2 separate regions of the Homo sapiens genome follow, and region 2 is linked to region 1. The links come from fine-mapping of genetic effects on gene expression. A gene starts in region 1. The other region holds a variant in brackets. All regions are shown on one strand. Distances are between the middles of the regions.

Region 1 (2,500 bases):
CGTTTAAACTTATATTTCTTTGATTAGGAAGGCTGACATTCGTTCCTGCAATTCATATTTCTTCCTTACTGAATTGCCTGTTCCTATCCTTTGCTCGTTTTTCTATAGGGATATTATTTCATTCTTTCAGTGTTGTTTTTACAAAATAAACAATTTTTTTGTTTGTTTTTTCCCCCGAGACGGAATCCTGCTCAGTTGCCCAGGCTGGAGTGCAGTGGCGCGATCTCGGCTCCCTGCAACCTCGGCCTCCCGGGTTCAAGCGATTCTCCTGCCTCAGCCTCCCAAGTAGCTGGGATTACAGGCACGCGCCACCACCATGCCCGGCTAATTTTTGTATTCTTAGTAGAGACGGGGTTTCACCATGCTGGTCAGGCTGATCTCGAACTCCTGACCTCAGGTGATCCGCCCGCCTCGGCCTCCCAAAGTGCTGGGATTACAGGCGTGAGCCACTGCACCCGGCCCAACAAATGTTTTAGAAAGCCATCTGGATGATAGTCCATGACTGCTGAACACCGGCTGAGGTCCACAAAACTGCGCTCACCGCTTGGGGACTTTCCAGCCGGCCTTTACTCTCCATGGAAAGCGGTCTTTCCACAAACCTCCACGGTGGGAATTACTGCAAAGGCATCGGCTCTCCCGGCCTAGAATATCTCGCGGGATCTCAGCTGTCCTTGGGCCCCCCCCCTCAGCGCAACTACCAATCCCAACATGCAACGCGCCCCGTGGCCCAAGCGCCCGAATGAAGGCTCGGGGCCAAAGTCATGTGTCTGACTGCGTCACACGTCCCGTCATCTCTCCCACGCCTTTTTCTTCAGCGTACACCTTGGTCGCCATCTTGTGCGCGAGGTTATGGAACCTCTGAGTCCCGCCAACTCTATGGTCGAGCGTTTCAGGGATCGGCCAATCGTAATCCAGATCTCGTAGGAAAGCCCCGCCTCTATCCGCATGGAGGCGGGAATTGCCACGAAGCTCCTGTGGAGGGAGAGGAAGCAGCTGCGGAAAGCCAATAAGAGTGGGGAATCGATGACGTCAACCAATGGGGACGCGGGGATATTACGGCCAATGAGAATGGAGAAGGTCCAGGACACGTGGGTGGGGGAAGCTGAGCGCTGAGACCAAGGGCTAAAGCTGGGAGGTGAGTCTGTCACCTTGAGCCGGGCGAGCGCTGTGGGCCAAGCAGGGGTTGCAGGGTAGTAGGAGTGCAGGTGACTTGGGGCCGGGAGCCAGCAATAGGCAGGGTTGTGGGCTGGGCAGTGTGGAGGGGTATTTCCCCCCAGTGCTGGGAGAGGCTATGGCAATCTAGATATGGCCTTATCAATGAATGTTAATTACCAACGGTAATGAACGATTGACTGCCTCGGCTGGGGCGGGTCGGGGACTGCTGTGTAAGATGGGCAGGATCCTGCGCGACACCTGCCCAGTATCCGCCTCCAGTCTTCCCGAGAGACCATTCCCTTTCGCAACATTTCCTTCCTGGGGCTTGGGCACATTTCCTTGACTTCCGATCTCCATGACTTTGCTTTGAAGACCCACTGCTCTGTCCCTCTGACCTCTAATGCCCTCCTCAGCTGGGGCACGGTGCAAGGAAGAGCGTGGTCTAGGGAGGACGGACGGGGGTGAAGGGGACGACCAAAGGTCGTCATTATAAGCAAACAACCAGGGTCTCAGTGGGATTATTATTACTATTTTTTCCCCCTCTGCAGACTGAAAAAATGCAGACCGCCGGGGCATTATTCATTTCTCCAGCTCTGGTAAGGTGCCGCGCCGCAGTGCTCTGTAGTACCAGGTGTATGGTGTGGACGCCATCAGTGTTTAATGAATGAACCCAGGGGAGCTTGGCGTCCTGATGATGTAGGCTCTTTGAGGTGGCTGTAGGATGTGATGAAGGTAACCCCTGTTTATCTGGGCCTGTGAACCAAGCTATCTTGGCTTTGGAATGTGGTCAGAGAGTCTGGATTTGATTTTTATCCCCAGTCTGTCCTGGCCATAGAGACAGCCCACTAAAACAGTGGTTTTCAACAGTGGCTGCACGTTAGAATCATCCAGGGAACTTTTTAAAATCCTGATGCCTAGGCTGCACCTTAGACCATTTGCATCAGACTTTGGGAATGGGGGTGGAACCCAGGCATCTGTATCTTTTAAGACTTCTCCAGATGATTCCACCGTGCAGCCAAGTTTGAGAACCACTGCACTAAAAATTATTTCAAAAAAGCCATGTTACAGATGGCTCTCCTTGGATGGCTATTCCAGTCGGTTTCCGGGGCTGACTGGCCCACTCCATTTAGGGTGTGTAGCTGTGAGTGTATTTTAGCAGAATAAAATTTCCCCCATCTGATTACTTGGTGATCTGGGTATAAACCTTTCCTGTACCTGCTTTGGTATTAGTGTGGGTTCTTGTTCCATTCTGAGAAGCTGATTAAAGCTGTGCCCAAAGAAGTGAACTTTGGTTTGGTTTTGAATGGTGAAGGTTGCCACTGCTGACTATATCAAGCTATTGAGA
Region 2 (2,500 bases), 97 kb before region 1:
TGCCTATAGTCTCAGCTACTTGGGAGGCTGAGGCAGGAGAATTGCTTTAACCCGGGAGGCAGAGGTTGCAGTGAGCCAAGATCGCACCACTGCACTCCAGCCTGGCGACAGAGCAAGACTCAGTCTCAAAAGAAAAAAAAAAAAAAGAAAAGAAAAGAAAAATTCAGCAATAAAAAATGCACAGAAAGCACCAAGCACAGACCCCAACACACATGAAGCCTCAGAAATACTTGCTCCTTTTCCCTTTCCTCCTTCACCTGGTCAAGTTCACATTCTTCAGTCCCCCGTTTTCTTAAAACTCAAATGAGACCCGATTAGACAATAACAGGAATGGAAAAGCCTCTCGTGAAGATACTCTCATGAACTGCTCTCAATTTCCCCCCTTCTGAGGAATCTTCAAGCCGGCTAGCCACATGTCAGGGCACTGTGACACATCATTTGAGAATCTCTAATGGAGCAACGTCCAGGGGAACATGGGCCAAGCAATGACTGCCTGGCAAGTCCTTCTCACGTGGCAGACTAGCGATCAATAAATATCTGTTGATTTGGAAATATCAGAAGGGCCAACTGTAATAAGGGTATGTTTTGGTGTGTGTATATATTCTGCTGGGGAAACAGCTCATGTTTATCTCTCCTCCTCCCAGCCTCCCAGGGTTTACGATGGGGCCTTCTTTTAATGATTAACAGCCAAGAGGGCAGAGATGAAGGAATTTGTTCTGGGTTGCGAGGCAAAGGAGTATATTCTCAGACCATGTGACCCAAGATGGAAACACTGATGGGGACTAACAGGGTTTGGGTAGAATCCCAGAAAGCAGTTCTGAGGTTGGTAGGGAAAGGAAAGAAAAATGAAGCCTCTTCCTTACCTCTTACTGCCAGAGTGTGCATCTCGACTGAAATTTGAACTGTGCTTATTAATGGAATAATTAGTCAGGTGCATGCAGATATCATCCTGGGGAAAAAGACACACATCTGTCGGGTCAGCTCGGAAGGGCAGG[C/A]CCCCTGCTTCCTCTCTGTGCCCTCCCATGGCCCCTGGGGCTTGAAGGGATGGAAAGAAAGGGAAGTTTTAGGGCTTATTTAGTGTGGCAAAATACAGGAAGTAAGAAGGGGTGTCCTGCAGCCTCGAGCCTAAGAAACTCCAATTCTGCTGGGCGTGGTGGCTCATGCCTGTAATCCCAGCACTCTGGGAGGCTGAGGCAGGCAGATCACGAGGTCAGGAGTTCAAGACCAGCCTGACCAACATGGTGAAATCCCATCTCTACTGAAAATACAAAAATTAGCCGGGGATGTGGTGCACACCTGTAATCCCAGCTACTTAGGAGGCTAAGGTAAGAGACTCGCTTGAACCCAGGAGGCAGAGGTTGCAATGAGCCGAGATCATGCCACTGCACTCCAGCCTAGGCGACAAAGCGAGACTCCATCTCAAAAAAAAAAAAAAGAAACTCCAGTTCTTTCTGAGATTGGGTGGTGCCCAGCCTGAGAAAAACTTCAGGAGTCCTGGGGGTCCAGGAAAGGTGGGGATGGCAGGGTTGCTCATCCACGGCCTTTTCTCCTTGATTACCCCTGAACTGTGGTTCTGGCTTTGGAGTCAGGCAGACCTGGCCACAAGCCCCAGACTCACCTCTTCCTAGCTGTGTGACCTTGGACAAGTCCCTTATGCTCTGGGTTTTAATCTCGTCATCTGTAAAATGGGGATAATAATCCCTCTCTCTGAGGGATCCTGGCAGCGCTAAATGAAACCCGGCACATAGCAAGTGCTCAACAAATGACACTCACAATGTCTTGAGGATGTGGATTTAACTAGAATTTTTTTTTTTTTAATCACGCTATGGGGGTAGGGTGAGGTAGTGTGTCTCCTTAGCTCACCAGGTTGTCTGTGCAAGGGCGGGAGTAAGAGGTCGTCGCAAAGCGGGCCAGTCCTTCATTGTACACAAAAATCCTGAGAGGGTCACAGGATGTCACCAGTACATAAATCCGTAGGTCAAACTTAAACCCATCAATGATAAAGGGCTGGAAGGAGAGAACAGAAGTCAGACATGCATTAGAGGAGAAATTTACACTTGAAAATCACTAGCTCCCGCCTTGTTTCCATGGAGTTGGCTCCAACATTGCCTAGTGTTGTGGAGGGCAGGCTTGTCCAGGGTCAGAGAGAGGAACAAGGAGACTTGGGCTCTGTGTCCCAACATGTGACCCTGTGGAGGTCACTAAACCACACTGTGCCTTGGTTTCCTGATCTGTCAAGTGACACAAGTAACCACCTCTAAGAGGCACCTTGGCAACTAAACAAAGTAACATTAAAAAGTCCTCTGAAGCCAGGCGTGGTGGCTCATGCCTGTAACTCTAGCACTTTGGGAGTCTGAGGCGGATGGATGATCTGAGGTCAGGAGTTCGAGACCAGCCTGGCCAACATGGCAAAACCCCGTCTGTACTAAAAATACAAAAATTTGCCAGGCGCGGTGGTGGGCCCCTGTAATCCCAGCTACTCAGGAGGCTGAGGCAGGAG

What was found. PIP is the estimated chance that this variant, and not a neighbour inherited with it, causes the effect.
Region 2: its variant is fine-mapped to the expression of ATP5MC1 in prefrontal cortex (GTEx, PIP 0.98).

The regions. Positions count from the first base shown.
Region 1 is chr17:48,891,706-48,894,205 of GRCh38, forward strand. It overlaps ATP5MC1 (ATP synthase membrane subunit c locus 1), which reads left to right and starts at 1,082. Exons shown (of 5, transcript NM_005175.3): 1 at 1,082-1,205; 2 at 1,704-1,751. The coding sequence starts at 1,713. LOC105371814 (a long non-coding RNA gene) reads right to left here. Exons shown (of 4, transcript NR_135674.1): 2 at 542-972. RefSeq lists enhancers at 1-877, 515-974, 985-1,104, 1,685-1,794, 1,835-1,884.
Region 2 is chr17:48,795,198-48,797,697 of GRCh38, forward strand. TTLL6 (tubulin tyrosine ligase like 6) reads right to left here. Exons shown (of 16, transcript NM_001130918.3): 7 at 1,864-2,007; 8 at 864-949. Among named protein-coding and RNA genes, the nearest start is that of TTLL6, 21 kb to the right of the region's middle. The variant C/A (reference allele first, on the strand shown) is at 996.